2 separate regions of the Homo sapiens genome follow, and region 2 is linked to region 1. The links come from fine-mapping of genetic effects on gene expression. A gene starts in region 1. The other region holds a variant in brackets. All regions are shown on one strand. Distances are between the middles of the regions.

What was found. PIP is the estimated chance that this variant, and not a neighbour inherited with it, causes the effect. A credible set is the group of variants that fine-mapping cannot tell apart.
Region 2: its variant is the best candidate, but not a certain one, in a credible set for the expression of GRAMD1C in whole blood (TOPMed, PIP 0.61).

What each region holds. Positions count from the first base shown.
Region 1 is chr3:113,836,616-113,841,008 of GRCh38, forward strand. GRAMD1C (GRAM domain containing 1C) reads left to right here and starts at 2,173. Exons shown (of 18, transcript NM_017577.5): 1 at 2,173-2,321. The coding sequence starts at 2,295. RefSeq lists a silencer at 2,186-2,385.
Region 2 is chr3:113,885,640-113,889,978 of GRCh38, forward strand. All of the region lies in intron 6 of GRAMD1C (GRAM domain containing 1C), which reads left to right. It also overlaps the pseudogene CTDNEP1P1. Among named protein-coding and RNA genes, the nearest start is that of GRAMD1C, 49 kb to the left of the region's middle. The variant C/T (reference allele first, on the strand shown) is at 2,063.

The DNA.
Region 1 (4,393 bases):
ATAGCCACAAGTTATTATTATTATTATTATTTATTATTATTATTTGAGACGGAGTTTCACTCTTCTTGCCCAGGCTGGAGTGCAATGGCCTGATCTCGGCTCCCTGCAGCCTCCACTTTCCAGGTTCAAGCGATTCTCCTGCCTCAGCCTCCCAAGTAGCTGAGATTACAGGTGCTCACCATCACGCCCGACTAATTTTTGTATTTTTAGTAGAGACAGGGTTTCACCATGTTGGCCAGGTTGGTCTCAAACTCCTGACCTCAGGTGATCCTCCCACCTCAGCCTCCCAAAGTGCTGGGATTACAGGCTTGAGCCACCACGCCCAGCTGCCAAAAATTATTAATTATCCATAAATGAATATCCATAAATGTATACATAAATCATTAATTATCCTGTAACATCAACTCTAATAGCCATTTCATATTCACTATTCCTCAATTGTTCTAGAATGTCTTCCCTCCCTCCCTTCCTTCCTTCTTTCCTTCCTTCCTTCCTTCCCTCTCTCTCTCTTTCTTTCTCTCTCTCTGTCTCTCTTTTCTGGAGATGGGGCCCCCCTGTTTTGCCCAGGCTGGTCTTGAACTCCTGGACACAAGCAACCCTCCCACCTTAGTCTCCCAAAGTGCTGGAATTACATGAGTTAGCCACTGTGCCTGGCTTAGAATGTCTTTTTTATAGCTGTTTGGTTGGGAACTCTGAACCCCAAATATCTGAGACAGGCCTCAGTTAATTTAGAAAATTTATTTTGTGAAGGTTAAGGACACACCTGTGACACAGTCTCAGGAAGTCCCAATGACATGTGTCCAAGGTGGTTGGGGTACAGCTTGCTTTTATATATTTTGGGCAGACCTAATACATCAATCAATACATGTAAGATTTACATTGTTTCAATCTGGAAGGGGAGACAGCTCCAAGGCGAGAAGGAGGAACTTTCAGGTCATTGGTACATAAAAAAATTTTCTGATTTGCAATTGGTTGAAAGCGTTATTATTGACTGGGAGCTGTGGCTTGCACGTGTAATCCCAGCACTTTGGGAGGCCGAAGGGGGCAGACTGCTTGAGTCCAGGAGTTCGAGACCAGTCTGGGCAACATGGCGAAACCCTGTCTCAAAAAACAAACAAACAAACAAACAAACAAACAAACAAAGTAGTTAAGCATGGTGGCACACGCCAGTAGTCCCAGCTACTCGAGAGGCTGAGGTGGGAGGATTGGTTGAGTCCGGGAGGTGGAGGTTGCAGTGAGCAGAGATTGCGCCACCGCACTCCAGCTGGTCTAATAGAGCCAGAACCTGTCTCAAAAGAAAAAGAGAAAAAAGAGTTATTATCAGTAGAAAGGAATGTCTGGGTTAGGATAAGGGGTTGTGGATACCAAGGTTTTATCATGCAGATGCAGCCTCCAAGTAGCAGGTGTCCGAGGCAATAGATGATAAATATTTCTTCTCAGACTTAAGGTCTGTGTTGATGTTAATGAGGCATGTCCAATCCCCTCTTTCATCATGGCCTGAACTAGATTTTCAGGTTAAATTTGGAACGCTCTTGGCCAAGAGGAGGGGTCCATTTAGATGGCTGGGGGTGGGCCTCGGCATTTTATTTTTGGTTTACAGAACCAAGAATCTGCAATACGTACAGCAGTTAATCAGTAACTTCAATCCTTTATTGGAAGGAACAAGAGTTTCCTGGCCGGGGGCGGTGGCTGACGCCTGTAATCCCAGCACTTTGGGAGGCCAAGGCCAGCGGATTGCCTGAGGTGGGGAGTTCGAGACCAGCCTGACCCACATGGTGAAACCTTGTCTCTACTAAAAATACAAAAATTATCCGGGCGTGGTGGCAGGCGCCTGTAACCACAGCTACTCGGGAGGCTGAGGCAGGAGAATCGCTTGAACTGGGAGGCGGAGGTTGCAGTTAGCCGAGACGGGGCCTTGGCACTCCATCCAGCCTGAGGAATGAGAGCGAAACTCCGTCTCAAAAAAAAAAAAAAAAAGTTTCCGAGCAATTCACCTTTTCGCACATTGGGGCAGGGTATGCCATTTCCTGGGAGGCACAGTAGTTTGAGGTTGGGAATAGGGAAGTCTCATTGTGACCCCTAGAAAGACAAGCCTTCAGGCTAACCCGGTAACACCCATCGTCAGGAATCCTTCACGGCCGCCAGAGGGCGCAAGGAGCTGCGGCTGGAAGTACTCGGAGGGCCGGCGGAGGAGGCGCGCGGAGCCTGTAACTCGCAGCGCGCGCTGGAGGTGGGCGCGGGGCGGTGCGGTGCGGTGCGCGCGGGGCGGTGCCGCGGCGGCGGAGGGAGCCGCGATGGAGGGCGCTCCGACTGTCCGTCAGGTAAGCCGCGGGCCTCGCTGGGGCAGGTTCCCATCTGTGGCTTTAGCCTACTTTTTCTCACGGTGATTGCTTGAACCTTCTCAGATTACAGTTAATCCCTCCCTTCCCTTTTCTTCGTGCTCTTTGGAGTAATACGGAAAGTTGTTACCGAGGAAACGGTTTCCTGTGCCTCTGCGAGCCCTTTCCCTACGGGCGGTGGTGGGGACATTTGCTTCCCTGTGGGCGTTGAGGGCTTGAATTTGGTCCCGAAATGTCCTGGTGCGGATGTCTCAGCCCCAGGCCCCCTTGGGTCAGGCCCCATGGTCGTGATTCTGACCCACTGTCAACGTTTTTTCCAGCCTTGCCCCCTTCCTTTCATTCTCAGCCCTGTTGTAAAGGTCCGGATAGTTTAAATCACTGTGCTGTCAGCCAAGTTTTTGATTTCAACTAGTCTAGTTTTATTTGTTTACTACCTTATTTGACAAAACGGAAAGCGTGCTTATTAATATTCAGGATGAAACCCCGCTTTTGTTGGACGGGCGCCTGCGTTTCTGAACACCATCCTCCTTCTACATTGGTTTGTGTGTATGTATTTTACTTTTAGAGAACTGCGGTCAGTGCTATATCTTCTGAAGAGCGTTATAGTTTACAGATTAGTGGAGGTACACAAATAATTGTTGAATGAACAGATGAATGAGTGTTATTTCACTTGATTTGAAAAACATTACTATGAAATAGTCAAGCTGGATATTCATGAACCCAATCAGTCACTGATTCAGTTATGTCCCTGGCACTGGGTGTTCGGGATTAGATGGTGATTAACACAGACATGATCCCTGCTCTCAATAAGCTTATTGTCTAGACTAGAGATAAAATTATTTCCTCTATTGTAGAGTTAAGGAACAGATGTACAGAGATTGACTTTGCTAAGGACCACACAGCTAATAAGTCAGAGAGACAGGAATCTACTGTAGCCACCCCAGAAAGCCAGAATGGACCCCCATCCCAAATTTGATTCAGGTGTAGAAACTGATGATGCCACACACACACCATGAGGTTGGAGTAGAAACTGATGATGCCACACACACACCCTGAGGTTGGAGTGCAGTGGCGCAATCTCGGCTCACTGCAAGCTCTGCCTCCCGGGTTCACGCCATTCTTCTGCCTCAGACTCCCCAGTAGCTGGAACTACAGGCGCCCGCCACCACGCCCGGCTAATTTTTTGTGTTTTTAGTAGAGACGGGGTTTCACCGTGTTAGCCAGGATGGTCTTGAACTCCTGACCTCATGATCCGCCCGCCTCGGCCTCCCAAAGTACTGGGATAACAGGCTTGAGCCACCACCGCGCCCGGCCCTGAAAAAGTCTTTTACTTACATAATTAAGGTCTCCAGGGAGAGCAAGGCAGGCCTCTCAAGCAGCACTAAAATGGCTTAAGAGAGCCTCAGGAAAAAACTGGCTCCAGGTCTTTTTTTCACCCTTGATGTTTGATGACTGACCTGCACCATTTGAATTTGAATTTGAATTTAAGTCAGCCATTGTGGCCCAGTGCAGTGGCTCATGCCTGTAATTCTAGCACTTTGGGAGGCCAAGGCAGAAAGAAGTATCGCTTGAGGACAGGAATTTGAGACCAGCCTGGGCAACAAAGCAAGACCCTGTATCTACCAAAATAAAAAAAAAAAAGAAAGAAAAATTAACTGGGCATGGTTGTGTGGCGCCTGTGGTCCTAGCTATTTGGGAGGCTGAGATAGGAAGATCACTTGAGCACAGGAGGTTGAGACTGCAGTGACCCCTGTTTGTGCCATTGCACTCCAGCCTGGGTGACAGAGACCAAATTATTTTCAGAAATTTAACCAAGGTGGTAGGCCTTACACTATGTGTGGCACAATAGCCCATCCTCCTTTTGTGAGCTCCTTTGTGAGTATGTCAAAAGACTGTCCTCAGGGGAGGATGTCATCAATGGAATGTTATACTTGTGCTCCTGGAGAAAATTTGATGCAGTTAAGATCTTTCCTGTAAAGGCTGTGTATGATGGCAAGACTGCGTACTCTATGGTTAGCCTGGTAAAGAGATGTTATGTCTCTCTGGAGGTGAAG
Region 2 (4,339 bases), 49 kb after region 1:
ATTTCTTCCTGGAAGTGGTGAGCCAGTGGTACGAGCTGGTGGTGTTTACAGAAAGCATGGAGATCTATGGCTTTGCTGTGGCAGGTAAACTGGACAATAGCAGAAGCATCCTTAAGAGGAGATATTACAGACAGCACTGCACTTTGCAGTTGAGCAGCTACATCAAGGACCTCTCTGTGGTCCACAGTGACCTCTCCAGCATTGTGATCCTGGATAACTCCCTAGGGGCTTACAGGAGCCATCCAGACAATGCCATCCCCATCAAATCCTGGTTCAGTGACCCCAGCGACACAGCCCTTCTCAACCTGCTCCCGATGCTGGATGCCCTCAGGTTCACCGCTGACGTTCATTCTGTGCTGAGCCGAAACCTTCACCAACATCGGCTCTGGTGACAGCTAATCCCCCTCCACTTGGGTTGGGGTGGGGGGGCGGGGGGGAAAGGGATGGCGAGCCCTTGGGATGCCATCTGATGCCCTGTCCAATGTGAGGACTGCCTGGGCAGGGTCTGCCCCTCCCACCCCTCTCTGCCCTGGGAGCCCTACACTCCACTTGGAGTCTGGATGGACACATGGGCTGGGGGCTCTGAAGCAGCCTCACTCTTAACTTCATGTTCACACTCCATGGAAACCCCAGACTGGGACACAGGTGGAAGCCTAGGGGAGCCGAATCAGTGTTTGTGAAGAGGCAGGACTGGCCAGAGTGACAGACGTACGGTGATCCAGGAGGCTCAAAGAGAAGCCAAGTCAGCTTTGTTGTGATTCGATTTTTTTAAAAAACTCTTGTACAAAACTGATCTAATTCTTCACTCCTGCTCCAAGGGCTGGGCTGTGGGTGGGATACTGGGATTTTGGGCCACTGGATTTTCCCTAAATTTTTCCCCTCTTTACTTTCCTTCTATTTTTCTCTCCTTAGACTCCCTCAGACCTGTAACCAGCTTTGTGTCTTTTTTCCTTTCCTCTCTTTTAAACCACACATTATAACTTTGAAAAAAAAATAAATTAGAAAAAGGACAGCAAACTAAATGCAAAGCAAGAAGAAGCAAGGAAATAATAAAGATTATAACAGAAATGAATGAAGTAAAGAATAGAAAAATAGACAATTCAGAACCAAAAGTTGTTTTTTTTTGTTTGTTTGCTTGTTTTTTTTTTTTTTTTTTTTTTTGAGATGGAGTCTCACTCTGTCACCAGGCTAGAGTGCTGTGGCCTGATCTCGGCTCACTGCAACCTCCAACTCCCTGGTTCAAGGGATTCTCCTGCCTCAGCCTCCTGAGTAGCTGGGATTATAGGCATGCGCCACCACGCCCAGCTAATTTTTGTATTTTTAGTAGAGATGGGGTTTCGCCATGTTGGCCAGGATGGTCTCAATCTCCTGAACTCGTGATCCGCCTGCCTTGGCCTCCCAAAGTGCTGGGATTACAGGCATGAGCCACTGCGCCTGGCCTTTTTGTTTTTTTTTTGTTTTTTTTTTTTTTTGAGATAGAGTCTCACTCTGTCGCCCAGGCTGGAGTGCAGTGGTGGCACAATCTCAGACAACCTCCGTCTCACAGGTGCAAGCGATTCTCCTGCCTCACCCTCCCAAGTAGCTGGGACTACAGGCGCCTGCCACCACACCCAGCTAATTTTTGGTATTTTTAGTAGAGGTGGGGTTTCACCATATTGGTCAGGCTGGCCTCTAACTTCTGACCTCTGGTGTTTCACCCACCTTGGCCTCCCAAAGTGCCGGGATTACAGGTGTGAGCCACCACACCCAGCCCAAAAGTTGCTTCTTTATAAAAAATGAGGCCGGGCACTGTGGCTTACGCCTGTAATCCTAGCACTTTGGGAGGCCGAGGTGGGTGGGTCACGAGGTCAGGAGATCGAGACCATCCTGGCTAACATGGTGAAACCCCGTCTCTACTAAAAATACAAAAAATTAGCCGGGCATGGTGGTAGGGCACCTGTAGTCCCAGCTACTCGGGAGGCTGAGGCAGGAGAAAGGAGAATGGCGTGAACCCAGGAGGTGGAGCTTGCAGTGAGCCGAGATTGCTCCACTGCACTCCAACCTGGGTGAAAGTGCGAGACTC[C/T]GTCTCCAAAAAAAAAAAAAAAAAAAAGGAAAATTGACAAACCTTTAGCTAGATCAACCAAGAAAAAAAGAAGACTACAATTGTAAAATTTAGGACTGAAAGTGGTGACAATACTACTAACCTTATAAAAATAAGAAAATTATAAGGAAATATTATGAATAATTGTATGCCAACAAATTATTTACCCTAAATGAAATGGATAAGTACTTAGAAAGTCACAAACTACAAAAACTGACTCAAGTAGAAATAGAGAATTTGAATAGACCTATAACAAGAAAAGAGATTGAATTAATGATAAAGAACCTACCACAGAGAAAAGCCCAGGCCCAGGTGGCTTCATTGGTGAACCAACTGTTTACAGTAGAATTAACACCAATCCTTCACCCAGTATTCTAAAAATAGAGGGAACACTTCACAACTTTATCTATGAGTACAGTATTACCTTGATACCAAAACCAGACATCACCACAAGAAAACTCTGGACCAGTATCCCTTATGAACAATGACACAAAAATCCTCAACAAAATATTAGCAAATCAAATCCAGCAATGTATGAAAAGGTATATACTATTATCAAGTAGAATTTATACAAGTTGAACTCAAAGCAGAGAGTAAAGTGGTAGTTGCCAGGGGTAGGAAGAAATGGGGAGATGTTGGTTAAAGGATACAAAGTTTCATTTATGCAAGATGAATGAGTACTGGAGATCAAATGTGCACCATGCTGACTACAGTTAACAATACTGTGTTGTATACTTGAAATTTGCTAATAGAGTAGATCTTAAGTTTTTTCACCAGTACAAAAAAAGAAAGAAGGCAAGCAAGCAAATGATAACTACATGAGGCAATGGATATGTTAATTAACCTGATTGTGGCGACCACAATGTATATGCATATCAAAACATCAAGTTGTATACCTTAAATATGTACCATTCCTATTTGTTAATTATACTTCAGTAAAGCTGAAAAAAAATTTTTTAAATACAAATGCTGTTGAGGATGTGGAGAAAGTGGATCCCTCAAGTACATTGTTGGAAAGATTGTAAAATGATGCAGCCACTTTGAAAAACAGTTTGGCAGCTCCTCAAAATGTTTACCATAGATCTGTTCTTGCAAAAACTTGTACCCCAATGTTCATAGCAGCATTTATTATTCATAATAGCCAAAAAGTAGAAACAATCCAAATGTCCATCAAGTGATTAATGTATAAATAAAATGTATGACCTGGTGTGGTGGCTCATGCCTGTAATCCCAGACTTTGGGAGGCTGAGGCGGACAGGTCACCTGAGGTCGGGAGTTCGAGACCAGCCTGACCAATATGGAAGAAACCCCATCTATACTAAAAATACAAATTAGCCGGGCGTGGTGGCACATGCCTGTAATCCCAGCTACTCGGGAGGCTGAAGCAGGAGAATCACTTGAACCGGGTAGGCAGAGGTTGCAGTGAGCCGAAATCGCGCTATTGCACTCCAGCCTGGGCAGTAAGAGCAAAACTCCTTCTAAAAAAAAACGTATATCCACACAGTGGAATATCATTCAGTAATAAAATGTAGTGAAGTAGTGATACATGCTACAACATGGATGAGCCTTGAAAACATAATGCTAAGTGAAAGACGCCAGTCATAAAAGAACACATCCTGTAGGATTCTGTTCTTATGAAATGTTTAGAATAGGCAAGTTCATAGAAACAGAAATAGTAAAGTTATTGCCTGGAGGAGGGAGTAATGAGAAGTGACAGCTGATGGAGTCAGTTATCTTTCTGGGTTGACAACGTGTCCTGAAATTAGCGGTGATGGTTGTTTAACTTTGGATATGTGAAAACCGCCTGAATTGTACACTTAGAGGGATGAATTTTCAGGTATGTGAATTATAGCACAGTAAAGCTGCTGTTAAAAGAAATGGTTTAAGGGGAACAGTAGAGATTTCCTGCAGATAAGAAAGCCTCTTTTTTTTTTTTTCGAGATGGAGTTTTGCTCTTGTTGCCCAGGCTAGAGTGCAATGGCGATCTCGGCTCACTGCAACCTCTGTCTCCTAGGTTCAAGTGATTCTCCTGCCTCAGCCTCCCGAGTAGCTGGGATTACAGGCATGCGCCACTGAGCCTGGCTAATTTTGTATTTTTAGTAGAGACAGGGTTTCTCCATGTTGGTCAGGCTGGTCTCGAACTCCCGACCTCAGGTGATCTGCCTGCCTCGGCCTCCCAAAGTACTGGGATTACTGGTGTGAGCCTCCACCCAGACAAGAAAGTTTCTTTCTTTGAAGCTGGCAGGTGGGAACTTAGCC